Regions from separate parts of the Homo sapiens genome. Here region 2 is linked to region 1. The links come from fine-mapping of genetic effects on gene expression. A gene starts in region 1. The other region holds a variant in brackets. All regions are shown on one strand. Distances are from middle to middle.

Region 1 (8,000 bases):
TGACTCAGAAGTTCCACTCCTAGGTATATAATCAAGAGAAATGTCCATACAAAAACTTGTACATGAATGTTCATAGCACTATTTTTCATAACAATTAAAAGGTAGAAACAACGTAATTTTCCATCAGTTGATGAATAAATACACAAAATGTGATATATCCATACAACGAAATATTATTTGGCAATAAAAAGGGTTTAAGTACTGACGCATGCTACAACCTTGATGAACCTTAGAAAGATTATGCTAAATCAAAGAGGCCAATCACAGAAGTCCACATATTATATGATTCCATTTATATGAAAGGTACAAAAGAGGCATTTAAATACATGAAGACAGAATGTAGATTAGCCTAGGGCTGGGAGTTGGGGAATAATGGGGAGTGACTAGGAGTTGGGGAATATTGGGGAAGTACAAGAGTTTCTTATTAGAACTAGATAGTGATGATGGCTGCACAACTCAGTCAATACACTAAAAGCCATTGAAATGCATACTTTAAATGAGTGAACTGCAGAGTATGTTTATATTTCAGTAAAGCTGTTATACTGGGGAGGAAAGTGACTTGTTATAAAGCAAAACTACTGGTCTATCCCAGGAGAAGTGGTGTCTTTTTGAATGAGAAGTTATAGTTACATAAGTGGCAGAAAATCAAAATTATTTAAGCAGGAAAAGAAAAAAACAGAAAACGTATATGAAAAGGACAAAACAATTTCTATTTAATTGAATTTCAAGATACACAAATGCATAGATGTTAAACGACAGGTTGCATAACACTAAATACAGACCTTCTCACCTGAAATCTATCAGTTCCAAAAATAAAGCATCTAAGGAAAGGTGATAGATATATCATCAGCTTTTGCAGTTTTTAAAACTTTTTAAAAACTGAATTTAAAAGTTCACAAATATGCAGATTTTCTGGTATGGTATCCCAAGTTCACAAAATAAAAATATTTGATTAGCATCTAAAATGTGCAGTTTCTCAAACTGAATTCAGAAATCTGACCTCAAATTTAACTAGGAAAAGTAAAGCTTTCAAGATCTGGACTACATGGAAGACACTGACAGCCAGACAAGAGCTGGCAGTGTTTGAGATTTAGGCAGAAGAATTTCAGAGTATAGTCAAGGGTTTACCATGCTACCCTGTCATGTATCTGCTCATAATGACACTCTAGCAGAAATCAATGCTAGCCTCTGACTGAAGTGAACAGAGTCTCCTAATGTGGCAAAATGTCAGAAGATAATATGGAGTTTCCTGGCCATTGGCAGATACAGCATGAATACATTTTTGGAAACAGAACAATTAGATAATAGACAATTTCCAATTTTTTTTTTCCTTTAACGTTCAAACTACAGTATTACTAAACTTCCACTCCCACTATCTTAATCAAGCATCATTTGTGTGGGAAATCTGCTTAGTGTTTTCTTTAAAAATAAGCAAGCCATTAATTGATCCAATGTGTTGGCAGTTCTAGAGAACCTTTTTAGACAGGAACAAATGATGCCTCTTACTTTATGTTCAAAGAAGTTGAGTTCAAGATTTCATGCATATGCACAGAGAAACAAAGAATCTCACAAAGTCAGCTAACAATCTTCTTGGAGTTTAAAGAACAACAAAAACAAAAAAGCTTCCTTCACCCCTCCTCCACTGAGGTTTTAAATATTAAGTAACATGTTTATCTAAAGATGCTTTACATGACTTACAGTGCTTTCCATAGTCCTTAACATCCTTGAATATCAAAGTTTCAGTAGTGCTCTTAAGACTCAAGGTGAGAGCACAATCTTTTCCCTTAGAAAACTGTCGAGCTCAAGAAAATATATCGAATATTCTGAAAGTGCTGTATTGTAACTTTTCTAAGTAATTGCCTCTCCTCCTCTTCATTAATTAACACACTACATTTTTCTGGCCTGTGTTTTAGAAGTCTGGAACATTTCCCCTCCCCACCTGTTTGTGTTAAGGTTGACAAATTTCCCTGACTAAAACAGCTGGTGTTGATTACTGGAGGCAAACCAATTGAATATTTCACTAATAGGTGACATGAGCTCTCGGAATGGAAACTTGTCCCCAAAGAGAACACCCCTACAAATGTAGCCAGAGCTTGGTGTTCCATTTCAGCAGCGTAACTATTTATTCAAATTTGGTTTTTAAAGAAAATAATGCTTTTGATTAGGAGACTCCACTCAGAAAATGCATCTGTCATTTTCTCCCCTCCTTCCGGGCACTGGATGCCACAGTCTCGGCCCAGAAACCCCTTTGGGGAAGGAGGGCCCACTTCTCAGGCACACAAATACAAGCAGCAAGCTCTGACATAAGGAGGCTAGCTTGCTAAAACTAGTGGCTTATGGACTTATGTTAACAAGCCTGGGGATGGCTTTTTTGGGGGGAGGGTGTTCCTACCACCAGGGAAACATTGCTTATGTCAGGCATATGCGGTATTGAGTTTTGGGACAGTAATGCATTTCTAGTCCTGGTACCTGCGATCATTAACAAAAGCTTATTCTCTCTAGTCTGAAATCCCTTCATTCTAGCCAGAAAGAAAACCTTCAGCATATTTAACCTCCCAATCAGGCAAAGGATAATGCAATAATTAGAAAAGTAGTTATAACTTTAGGGCCATCACACTCTTCTTGGCTTGTTGAGGATTGTTATTATTTACCATCGTGGCCACCTGTCAGTTTCTCTGGATGACAGCCTGGCAGAGCATAGTACTTTTAATATGATTAATGAAGTGCGTAAACCCAAAAGGGGAAACTCTCCCAAGTGCAAGTTCGCGGTGGTGAGCTGCCAGCAGGTAACCCTACCCCTCTCCTGATATAGCGCCTGCATCAGGGTATACCTGATGCACAGACCCAAGGGCAGTGCTGTGGTATCAGATCTACTGGTTCCAAACAGGTGCTGGGCCGGTCACTAACCAAGAACAGTATCTGAGCCCTACCCTCCAAACCCCACCTTCCAGGTCCCCCTCGGAAAAGTTAGCCCGCCACGTTGAACCCCTGTCCAAGCGGCGCTATGCCAAGCTCTCCGGCAGCCTCTCCCCTACCCAATACAGTTAATCTTCTCCTCTTTGTAAACCCCCCAAGTGACGCGGAGCAAAACTTAATCGGTCCAGGGAACCCAGACACGTCTTCCGCGCCGCACGGACTTCCCAGAAGGAGCCTGGAGGCAGGCGCTGGATCCCTCTAGGCACCTCCGTCCCCGCCGGCTCCCCTCCCCCGCGCCCGCTGGGCCACTCACCCGCGTGGGGCATGGTGATGGTCTCGTTGGTGTTGGAGCCCACGTTGAAGATGACCACGGCTGAGGCGTTCTGCAGGAACGCGTTCCGGATCTTATCCCTGTACGTGCAGTTGCCCTTGGGGATGAGGGCTATCCAGTTCTTGCCGCGGGTCGGGGCGGCGAACTTGGTGTTGGGGTCGCAGGCCAGGCGGTCGTGGGCCGAGCTGGCCATGACCACCTCCCCGCGGGCGTCCTGCTTGGGCGAGTGCTCTCCGTAGCGCCCGCACTCCGTCTTCTCCGTGTGCAGCTCCGCGCCGCCGCCGCCCGCCGCCCCGGCCCCGGGGTCCGGCGCGGGCTCGGCGTAGGTGATGTTCACGAAGGCGGTGTACCATTCCTCCTTCTCGGCCACGGTAAAGTCCAGGCAGAGCAGATGCACGAAACAAAAGGAAAGCAGCCATGTTGAGAGAGCCAGACTGCAGCACGCTTGGATGAGAGACATTGCCATCTTTATCCGCCGGGGCCCCCTCCCCGCCCCCGCGCCCTCCCTCCGTCCCGTCCCTCCTCCCCAGCCCCGGCCAACCCCGGGCCGCTGCCTCTCCTCCTGCTGCTGCTCACTCCCGGGCCGGAGGGGCCGCGGCCGGGACGCGCAGCCGCCGCGGGGACCGGATTCCGGGCGAGCGGATGGCGCTGGCCCCTTCCCCTCTCAGCTGTAGCGCGGTGGTTGCATTTTGCTTCTTGGGCGCCCGGGGGGCGCGGGAACAGAGGGCCCGCGGGGCTTGCGGAGGAGTCCTGCTGCCGAGCGTCCTGCTCCTTCGCCCGGCTTCGCCTTCTCTCATAAGGGTGGCCGGGGGCCCACGAACTTGCAGGGTGGCGGCCCTGCGCCCTCCAGCCCCGGCGGGGACGGGCACGATTGCTCGTAGTCTGGGGTGCTGCGGTGCGGGGTGCTGCCCAGGGTGTCCCGGCCGCCGCCACTGAGCGCTGGGGCGCGCGAATCCAGCTGCAGCCGCTGCTGCCCTGCGCCGGTTCCCTCAGGCTGCGGGCGCTGCGCTCCTGATCTCGCCGGTGGCTGCGCCTGGGCACGCACTTGCCGCGGGCGGGGCGGGCTTGGGGACAGTGGGAGCGAGCAGGCAGAGCGGAGTAAGCGGTCCGTGTGTGTGTGTCTGTATGTTTGTGTGTGTGTGTGTGTGTGTGTATAATGTGTGCGTGCAAGGAGGAGCTTAGTGTGATGTCAAAGCCCCTGGGATTCTCTTGCCATGTTCCCTTGGTCTCTCTTTATGGGCAGCAGCGACCCCTGTCGGGTCTCAAATTCAACCTCAATCGGCGACTTAATCTAGGTGGAGGTAAAGAGGAAGCGACCCCTCGACCTTTGAGTACGGGAATAACTTCCTGAGCGTTACATTTAGCAAATGTATGTGCCTCTCGTAAACGACCCTCCCGTTTGCTGGAAGTACTGCCGTGAGCTCCCTGATTACCTGTCCTAAGGCCAAAGTGTAAGGTGGTTTGGTATTGAGGTCCTTCCAAAGCTACCTCTGGAATACCTAGGGCAGTGGCTATCAAATCTTTAGTTTTAAAACTCAGACCGATGGGTCCTGCCACAAAGTTTCTGGTTCAGTAGATCTGTGGTAGGGCCCCAAAAATATGCATTTCTAACAAGTTCCCAGGTGGTGCTGATGCTGCTGGTCTAACAACCATTCTGTTAAGATGGGTATAACAATGGGCTTCCTACTGCCCACCTGGAAGCAAACATCTAACATTCGTTTTCTTATAGAATAGGTGTTTTGTCACTCTGTAAGAAGAGAAACCGGGTGAGACATTTCTGGACTGTGTTTATTCTGATTGTCATGGCTGGGAACAGGGGACTCGCAGCACCAACAGGCAAGGGAGGTTTGTTTGGGTTATTGTTTATAGTGCGCTCTCCAACTGTGCATAGAGATTACAGTAGTCAGCAGACAGTACAGTCCCCCTAGTGTAGTGTTCTTAAAACTGTAGTACAGCAGAGTGCCTTACCAATTAGACGTTTTGGTGGTGGATATCCTTTCCCTTGGCTTGAGATGCCTGCCATATAGTCTCTAAAAATATTTGTTTGATGGTTCTCTATCATTTACATTGTGTTTCCCACCTGATGCTCTTTCAGAGAACCCAGGACCCATTCATGATTTAAATTTAAAAAATGAAAGGCTGCCTTTTCCCCAGGACTTTAGCATGTTTACAGCTCTTCGTTAATGAACGTCCACCAGTACAACTTCTCTTTTTCCGGCAGCAGTACAAACAGCTGATGGCTGTTAAGGGAGGGCAAAGAGCCTCAGCTGTACCCAAATTAGAAGCAGGCACAAGAAGAACTACTTAGAAGAATTTGTCTCTATGGCATTTGATGTGCTGAATTTGTATGTGTTCCTAGCTTATTCATTTTAGAAAATAGGCTTCTAGGCAATTGGGACAGTGCTTTTTATAGCGCTTACTGCCAAGGAGGCAAAAGTGGAGACACCTGGCTGCTGGTTCCTGAACCACCAGAGATCTGAGGGAGGAGTCCACTGCTAGAAACCCCCGGCTAGGTTCTGAGCAGTTGCCTTTAGCAACCCACAGTGTTTCCCCAGTCTTCTTTATCGCTTAGCATTTTTTTTCTCCAGCTGGAAGACTTGGAGAAGCTATGTTATTAAGAATGTGTGACTATCCCTTACCCCTTCTTTCCTTTGGAAAAGTTAGGTGCTAAAGAGATGACAGGGTCAAGGAAATAGCATGGCTGGAAGATTGCTTAATTACAGGGCCATTGGGCTAATAAGTAAAACACTGAGTAAAATAGGAGCGAGGTTTCTTACTGTTGGAGAAGGAATTTACAAATATGGAAAGAAAGAGAGCTGTAAATAACCTTGAGGCTTTAGGGTGGATTAACAATGAGTATGAAATAATTTTTCAAAAACTATATGTATATATATTTATGTGTGTGCACACATATATACCATAGCTCTCTCCATTCAGAGGCCAAAAGCAAAAGGCACATCCAGTGGCCAGAAGATCTTCGTTTCTAAATAGCATCCTCCACGAAAAGCAAGCTGGCTGATTATAGGGCTGACACTGGGAAAGTACAGAGTGAGCCCATAACCTCTTGAAAGGAAATGCTCCAAGCATGATGGGAGTATGTCAAAAAGACAGAAGAGCCAGCTGGAAAGGGCTCCCACTGGCCAAATCTGGGACAGTCTGAACATAAAATAAATGATCCTAGTAACTGATTACAACCTATCTAATAAGGCATGAATCCGTGCTAATGTTAATACAGAAAAATGATGGAGTAAATAAATAGGGAGGAACAGCTCTTCCTTATGGTAGAAATACCTACTGATAAGGATTAATGGATATAGAAAGTCACCATTTGACAAGAGTGTTGTTTGATTTAGGCAGGAGTCATCAATGGATACTAAGGCTGATGAGTAGGTGTTTGATGTGAAGCAGGATATTAGCCTAGTCTTGAAGTATCTTCTGAAAAATACTTATTAATTCAATAAATGGTGAATTTATTGAAGAGGAACCTGGAAGACACCAAGTTGAGCAGGTGATCATGGTGAACATCACCATTTGTAGAATGAGTCCTATCATGTACCTCCTTATGAAATGCACTGGAATTACAGTGTCATTTCTGTCATGTTCCTGAAAAGAACAATACACGGCATGGTCTAGACATAAGGAAACAATGGATAAACCCAGGATGAGAGGCAACCTTCAAAATGAAAAGTTTATATTCTTTAAAACTCTTAAACTTATGAGAGACAGAGAAAAACAGAAGAACTGATCCAAATTGAAGAGATTTAAGAGATGTGACAATTACGTACAATAAATATCCCAGATTGGCTCCTAGACCAGAAAGGAAAAATAAACACTTGGCAAAAATTCAGTGAAATTGGTAGATTGGATGGTATATTTTATCAATGGTGAATTCCTGACTTGGATATTTATATTGTAGTTTTGTAGAAGAATGTCTGTGGTTGGGGGGCTATGTACATTGAAGAATTTAGCAGTGATGAGACATTCTTTCTGCAACTTACTCTTAAATGGTTCAGAAAAAAAAATGATTATCTATGACATATTGGTTTCCACTAGCTACACTTTCAGAGAATTTGAGCCCAATTCATGATATTTTTAATAAGTCAAAAGTTCAGTTTTTGAGGGGACATTAATATGTTTCCAGCTTTGTGCTAATGATTTTCTGGCAACCCTGCTACTCTTTTTTCCAGTGGCACTTCTTGAACAACTGACAAGTGGTATTTGGGGAGAGCAATGAGCGCTTGCTATACCACCCCCCAAATATATAATACTGTTGTAGATAAAAACATCTCTGTATTTCATTTCTTCATCCAACAATAATTATCGAGCACCTGTTAACGCATTGGTGTTACAGGCACTGGGCATCCAACTGAAACAAAACAGATAAGATTCTTGCTCTCATGGAGTTTATATTCTGGAGTTGGAAAAAAACAGAAATTTCTAAAAAGCTTTAGATTATGTCAGATAATGACATCTGCTATGAAGAAAAAGGCAACAGAGTATGGAAGGGTAACCTATGTCACATAAGGTATTTTCTGTCAGGGTCAGCTGCTTTGTGAGGTGACTTTTGAACAGAATATTGAAAGAAATAAGGATTCTATGTGGCTATTTGGGGGACTGGTTTTACCAGGAAAAGTACAAGTACAATCTGAGTATAAGTACAATCTGAGGCAAGTACATGAGTACAAGTGTATGAGTACAAGTACAATCTGAGGCAAGATTGTATTTGATATGCAGAAAAACAGCAAAGAAACCA
Region 2 (8,000 bases), 250 kb before region 1:
CCAGGATTACAGGGGTGAGCCACCATACCTGGCCCATAATCTGTTCTTGAGTTGAGATTCTTAACTTAAGGATTAGTGATTTGCAGGGTGGGGCTGGGGGATTAGGCATTTAAAATTACATACACACATTTATAGCTACATATAGGCCTTTTCCTGGTAGTTTTCATCAGATTCTCAAACTCACGAAAGGCTAAGAACCGTTCACTTAAATGATTTTGCATCCCTGGTGAGTTGGATAACACATTACAGTAAGCAACAGAATGGCTTGGTTTTGTTTGTGTTTTTTTTTAATGCATATTTTGGTTTACATTCCACTAGCTATGTGTTCTATTAACTTGACATGATAGTTTTCACATGAAGTCACTGCTTTCCTACTTAATTGTTTCTTTATGGTGGTTATTCAAAGCTAAAGCAGAAAACTATCCTTCCCTGAATGAGGTTTATTTACTCACTCTACTGCCTGTCTTATGAAAGAAGGCACAGACCAGTAGCAGGCTGGCATAAGTCCTCCTCTGTTAGGAATTAACAAACATTGCCCTCAGAATAAGTGCTCTCTGTTTTGAGAGAAAATAAGGTGGTGGTTAATATAATCCCCCAGGTGGCCTATTCTCCAGGAGGTCTGGTGTTTGCATGCTGGGAGTTGCTCTGCATTACACAAAAGCTTATTTTTCCTCATGTACTTGAAAAGTAAGGTTTCAAAGAAAAATGGCATCCTTCTGTCCACTGCTGCTGATGCTTATCTTCTTGAAAATAGGGCATAATTTCCAATCAACCCTGTATTGTACAAGAGCACTATAGGGAAGGCACTTTCAACCACATTGGTTGAATTATAATGTTGCTGTCTTTTCATCTCAGAATGTGAAACTCCCTTCAGGCTGGGGCAGTGTCTATATAGCCTGTCATTATGTTAGTGGGAAAGTTAATTAGACTTTAAATGCAGCGTGTTTGCAATAAGGAAATGTGTTCCTTTGAATTCTTTGCCTTAGCAAGAATTTCTAAGGAGATAAACTACTTCCCACTTGGTTTATGTTTTCCCATTTATGAGTGGCCTCTGATGTGAGAATGGCAAGGTCTCTGGACCGCTTTCCTCAGAGGGTATGCAATAGGGTGGATACTAATAGCTAGGATAGACTGGCTCCTTCCTACATGCCAGGCATTTTGCTATGCCATTAAATATATCACACGTCACCCTCACAATAATACCGCTATGATGGCTTCACATGTTATAGGTGAGGGTGAGCACATAGAAGATGGAAGAAGTGGGATCTCAACCCAAGTCAGTGAAATTGACAGTTGTACTATTCTGGAATGGCAGAGCTACTAGAGTTCTATTTGGCTGCTATGTTGCTCTTACAGACAAGACTCAGCCACATTTGGAAACCCAGCAGGCTTATGATACAAATTCATCCATTTGGCCAAGTGACTTCTAGAATTGTTCAGATATAACTGACAGTTTTGCCTTTTCAATTCCTGTTCCATAATTGCAAATATATACATCTTGCGGTCAAATTAGGAAAATTCTTTCTCACCTTTCAGATGGGGAAGTTTAAAACATTGTTTTCATTTGGATTTGGTGAAGGAGAATTCCCTGTATATTAAATTAGAAGCCTGTATATTAAATTAGATCACATAGTTAGGATTTCACTTTGCTTTTATCTCTTTGCTGTTGGTTTTCTTTCCCTGTGACACTTCATCTAGCAGGGGAAAGATTTTCTCCAACTGCTCAAATTCCTTACTGATTTCCTTGGCAGTTCATTCATTGAGTCATTCCTTGCTAAGTGCCAAAAGAAGAGGCAAAGTGATTTTTACATTAGTTTTACATTTGTTTTTGCAGGGAAGGAGACAAAATCTAGTGCACATTGTGTTGTCAACAGTTTTTTTTTACAATGCCCAATTAGTACCACCTATTGAGAACCTTAAACATTAAGCATAATATCTGGTAGATGAAAGACTTTTGATGAATGTAAATATGATTGGTATGAAAAAGGAGTGTAAAAGAGAAAGTTGCCAAATGGATTTAGAGAGATAGGCAGAGTTCATACATATTTATCCATTTCTGCAACCGTATAAAATTATCTATAGACCCCATTTATTCATTCAACAATTCACTTAATCTTTATTCAACAGATGTTTATTGAACATGTATTAGGTACACAGCACTGCTGATGAGCAGTGTGGAGAAAAGAAAGATGACCTAAATACAGGCTCTGACTTTAAGCTGAATTTGATCTACTAAAAGAGATCAGATTTGTATCCATAGAAATGTAATACAAGGTGACATATGCTAAAAGAGAGGTGTAAATAAAATGTTAAGGAAACAAAGGTGTGGGGAAAATATCACCTCTAAGTGGGTAACCAAGAGGATTCATGAAGTAGGTTACATGTAGGCTGGCAGTGAGGATCTAATTAGTATTGGGAAGTATGGAGGTAAGGGGAAATGGAATTCCTTCCAGAAGGGCCAGCATGACTATAGCAATCATCAAAGCAAATTTCAAGGCATGTGGATGGTTTGACTTGCCTGTGGCTTAGTGTATGAAGGATGTGGAATGGTTCAGACAGGTCACTGTGGCTCCTGAAGTGTTGGCTGTGGTTTCAATGAGATCAGAGGGAGAAAGATTCTCTATATCCCCATCAACACTTACTATTTTGTGTTTATTTTTAAATTTTATTTATTTATTTTTAATATTAGTCATCCTAACAGGTTAAGGTGATATCTCATTGTGTTTTTTTTTTTTTTTTTTTTTCAACAGAATCTTGTTTTATCACCCAGGCTGGAGTGCAGTGGCACAATCTTGGCTTACCTCACTCAACCTTTGCCTCCCAGGCTCAAGCAATTCTTGTGCCTCAGCCTCCTGAGTAGCTGGGATTACAGGTATGCACCACCATGCCCAGCTAATTTTTGTACTTGTAGTAGAGATGGGGTTTTACCATATCAGCCAGGCTGATCTCAACCTCCTGGTCTCAAGTTGATTCACCTGCCCTTGGCCTCCCAAAGTGCTGGGATTACAGGCGTAAACCACTGTGCCTGGCCTCATTGTGGTTTTGATTCACATTTCCCTGATGATCGGTGATGTTAAGTATCTTTTTTATGCTTGTTGGCCATTTGTACTTCTTCTTAGGAAAATTATCTATTCAAGTCCTTTGCCTATTTTTCAATAGGGTTATTTATTCTGTAATTTGAGTTGTAGGAGTTCTTTGTGTATCCTGGATATTAACACCTTATCAAATATATGGTTTGCAAATATTTTCTCTCATTCTGTAGCTTGTCTTTTCACTCTGTTGACTGTTTACTGTGCAGAAGATTTTAGTGTAATGTAGTCCAATTTGTCTATTTTTGTTTTTGTTGCCTGTGCATTTGGTGTCATTTCCAAGAAATCCTTACCAAATACAATGCCATGAAGCTTTCCCCCTCCTGTTTTCCTCTAGGAGTTTTACAGTTTCAGGTCTTAGATTTAGGTATTTAATTCAGTTTGAGTGATTTTTTTGTATGCTTACGCTCTAAGATAAGGGTCCAATTACTTTCTTTTGCAATGTGGACCTCCACTTTTCTCCACACCATTTTTTGACACTATCCTTCCACCACTATGTAGTCTTGGCTCACTGTTGAGGATTATTTGACCATATACATGAGGATCTCTATTCTGTTTTATTGGTCTACATGTCTGTCTTTATGCCAGTACCATATTGTTTTGATTACCATCACTCTGTAATATGTTTTGAAATTAGGAAGTGTGAGGCCTTCAATTTTGTTCTTCTTTCTCATGATTGTTTTGGCTATTTGGAGTAAATATGAGTTTTAGGACTGTTTTTCTGTTTCCACACAAAAAAAATGCCATTGGGATTTTGATAAAGATTCCATTGAATTTACAGATTGCTTTGGGTAGTATGGACATTTTAACAACATTGTCTTCCAATCCGTGAACATGTGATATCTTTCCATTTATTTATGTCTTAACTTTTTTAAGCAATGTTTTAAGTTTTCAGTGTACAAGTCTTTCACCTTGTTCATTAAGTTTATTCCTAAGTATTTTACTTTTTTGATGCTATCATAAATGGAACTGTTTTCTTAATTTCCTTTCATATTGTTACTGTTCAGAAATTCAACTAATCTTTTATGTTAATTTTGTACCCTGCACTTTGGGAGGCTGAGGCAGAAGGATCACTTGAGTCCAGGAGTTCAAGACCAGCCTGGGCAACATAGCAAGATCATGTCTCTACAGATGAAAAAAAACTAGCCTGGCATGGTGGCACATGTCTGTGGACCCAGCTATTTGGGAGGCTAAGCTGGCAGGATTACTTGAGCCCAGGTTGAGGCTCCAGTGAGCTGTGATTGTGCCATTGTACTCCATCCTGTGTGGCAGAGCAAAATCCTGTCTCAAAAAGAAAAAAAAAATTTGCACCTAGAAACTTTGACTTTGCTGAATAGTTTATTAGTTTTAAGAGCATTTGAAATGTGGAATCTTTAAAGTTTTCTACATATAAGATCATGTCATTTTGTGAACAGAGATAATTTTATTTCCTCCTTTCCAAATTGGATGCTTTTTATATATTTTTTTCTTTCCTAATTGCTCTGACTAGGACTTCCAGTACTGTGTTTAATAGAAGTGGTAAGAGTGAGCATTCTTGTCTTGTTCCTGATCTTGGAAGAAAGCTTTCAGTTTTTCACCATCTAGAATGATGTTAGCTATAGACTTTTCATACTTGACCTTTCTTATGTTGAGGGAATTCTTTTATTCCTAGTTTGTTGAATATTTTTATTATAAAAGCATGTTGAATTTTTTCAAATGCATTTTCTGCATCAGTTGAGATAATCATGTGATTTTCATTCTTTGTTCTGTTAATGTGGTGTATTACACTGACTGATTTTTTTTTGTATACTGAA[T/C]CATCCTTGCATTCCAGGGATAAATCCCACTTGGTCATGGTATATAATCTTTTAATGTACTGTTTAAATTGATTTCCTCATATTTTGTCAAAGATTTTTGCATCAATATTTATTGGTTATATTGGTCTGTAATTTTCTTTTCTTGTAGTATCTTTGTCTGGATTTGGTATTATGGTAATACAGGCCTCATAAAATAGTTTAGAAGTGTCCCCTCCTCTCCAGTCTTTTTTTTTTTTGGAAGAGTTTGAGAAGAACTGTCATAAATTCTTTTTTAAATGTTTGGGATAATTCTCCAGTAAAGCCATCTGGTCCTGGGTTTTTTTTTGTTTGTTTGTTTGTTTGTTTGTTTTAAACAAAAGGTCTTTTTATTACTGGTTCAATCACCTTACTAGTGATAGGTTGGTTGAAATTTCCTATTTCTTCATGATTCAGTCATAACAGATTGCATTTGTCTAGGAATTTCTACATTTATACATTTCTTCTAGGTTATTCACAGTAGTCTCATAATATTTTTTATTTCTTTGGCATTAGTTGTAATGTCTCCTCTTTAATGTCTAACTATTTATTCAAGTCTTCTCTTTATTTTAATTAGTCTAGCTAAGGATCTGTCAATTTGGTTGATCCTTTCAAAACACAAATTCTAAGTTTGGTTGCTTTATTCCATTGTCTTTCTATTCTCTATTTCATTTATATCTGCTCTAATCTTTATTATTCCCTTGAAATTCTGCTAATTTTGAATTTGGTTTGTTTTCTTTTCTCTAGTTCCTTGAGGTATAAAGTTTGGTTCTTTGAGATCTTTCTTTTTTAATGTAGTCATTTATTGATATAAACTTTCCTTTGTACTTTTTTTTTTTTTTAAGACAAGGTCTAGCTGTATGGCACAGGCTGGAATGCAGTGGCATGATCTTGGCTCACTGCAGCCTCCACCTCCTGGGCTCAAGCCATCCTCACACTTCAGCCTCTCAAGTAGCTGGGACTAGAGGCATACATTATCACATCTGGATAATTTTTGTATTTTTTTGTAGAAATGAGGTTTCACCATTTTGCCCAGGCTGGTCTCAAACTTGTGAGCTCAAGGGATCCATCTGCCTCAGCCTCCCAATCTGCTGGGATTACAAGCATGAGCCACCACACCTGGCCCCTTTGTACTTCTTTTGTTGCCTCCCATAAGTCTTGGTACATTACCTTTTTGTTTTCATTTGTCTCAAGACGTTTTCCAGTTTATCTTGTGATTTCTTCTTTGACCCACTGGTTATACAAGAGAGTGTTGGTTGGGCATGGGGGCTCATGCCTGTAAACTCAGTCCTTTGGGAGGCCAAGGTGGGAGGATTGCTTGAACCCAGGAGTTTGAGACCAGGCTGGGCAACATAATGAGACTATGTCTCTATGAAAAACCAAACAAAGCAAAAGAGCCAAGTGTAGTGACATGTACCTGCAGTCCCAGCTACTCAGGAGGTTGAGGTGGGAGGATATCATGAGCCCAGGAGTTTCAGGCTGCAGTGAGCTATGATCATGTCACTGCATTCTAGGCTGGGTGACAAAGCAAGACTCCATCTCTTTAAAAAAAGAGGATGTTGTTTAATTTCTACATTTTGATGAGCTTTCCAGTTTGCTATTGATTTCTGGTTTCATTTCACTGTGGTTGGAAAAGATATTTCGTATGATTTCAATCTTCTTAATTTTCTTTATTTTTAATTTTTTTATTTTTATTTTTGAGATGGAGTCTTGCTCTGTCGCCCAGGCTGGAGTGCAGTGGTGCAATCTCGGCTCACTGCAAGCTCCACCTCCCAGGTTCACGCCATTCTTCTGCCTCAGCCTCCTGAGTAGCTGGGACTACAGGCACCCGCCACTACGCCCGGCTAATTTTTTGTATTTTTAGTAGAGACGGGGTTTCACCATGTTAGCCAGGATGGTCTCGATCTGCTGACCTCGTGATCCACCCGCCTCGGCCTCCCAGAGTGCTGGGATTACAGGTGTGAGCCACTCAATCTTCTTAAATTTCTTAAGACTTGTTTTGTGGCCTAACATGTGATCTATCCTTGAGAATGTTTCATGTGCATTTGAGAAAAATGTGTATTCTGCTACTGTTGGGTGGAGTGTCCTGTATATGTCTGTTTGATCCAACTGATCTATAGTGTTGCTCTATTCTACTTATGCCTATTGTTCTCAGTCTGGTTTTCTATCTATTTTTGAAAATGGGGTATTGAAATCTCTTACTCTTATTGTGTTACTATTTTCCCTTTAAATTCTGTACATGTTTACTTCATATATTTGGGTGCTCTGTTAGGTAAATATATATTAATAATTGTTATATCTTTCTGAATAATTAACCTTTTAATCATTATATAATGACATTCTTTGTCTCTTGTGACAGTTGTTTACTTAGTCTAATTTTTTCTGATATGAGCACCTCTGTTCTCTCTGGTTACCATTTACATGGAACATCTTTTTTCATCTTTTCCCTTTAGCTCAGGTATGTCCTTAAATCTAAAGTGACTGCCTTGTAGACGGCATATAGTTACCTTTTGTTTTTCATTTATTTAGTCTTTTGATCTGAGAGTTTATTCACAGTTAAAGTAATTACTGATAGGGAAGTACTTATTATTTTCATTTTATCATTTTCTATGTTGTAGTTATCTCTCTTTTTCCCTCTCTTGCTGCCTTCTTGTTAGTTTTGTTCATTTTTTTTTGTAGTGCTATATACTTTGATTTGTTTCTCATTTATCTTTTGTGTACTTTTTTGAGTATTTTCTTTGTGGTTACTATAGAGATGACATAAAACATGTCAGAGTTATAATAATCTATTTTAAGCAGATAATGCCACATATAAAAACTCTACTCTTATATATTCCCTTCTACACTAAGTTACTGATGTTATAAATTATATCTTTAGTATATTTTACATCCATTAAAGTAGTTTTTTTCACCTTTGTCCTTTAAATTCTATACCAGAATTAAAAGTGATTTATGTACCACCATTACAGTATTTATGCACCACCCTATCACAGTATTGTGTATTTGTCTACATATTTACTTTTGCCACTGAGCTTCATGGTGCCGTAAGCTTTTGTGTTACTATCTAATGTTCTTTTGTTTCAACTTAAAGAACTCACTTTAG

Which allele goes with the higher level. Alleles are on the strand shown, and positions count from the first base shown. SD is a standard deviation of normalised expression in the study named.
In carriers of allele T in region 2, the expression in subcutaneous fat of the gene that starts at base 4,374 in region 1 tends to be higher than with C alone (large effect, 0.79 SD a copy in TwinsUK).

Evidence for each region. PIP is the estimated chance that this variant, and not a neighbour inherited with it, causes the effect.
Region 2: its variant is fine-mapped to the expression of RNF150 in subcutaneous fat (TwinsUK, PIP 0.95).

Annotation. Positions count from the first base shown.
Region 1 is chr4:141,129,096-141,137,095 of GRCh38, forward strand. It overlaps RNF150 (ring finger protein 150), which reads right to left and starts at 4,374. Exons shown (of 7, transcript NM_020724.2): 1 at 3,230-4,374. The coding sequence starts at 3,713. RefSeq lists a silencer at 4,193-4,312.
Region 2 is chr4:140,875,442-140,883,441 of GRCh38, forward strand. The region is part of intron 6 of RNF150 (ring finger protein 150); the gene reads right to left. Among named protein-coding and RNA genes, the nearest start is that of TBC1D9, 120 kb to the left of the region's middle. The variant T/C (reference allele first, on the strand shown) is at 4,883.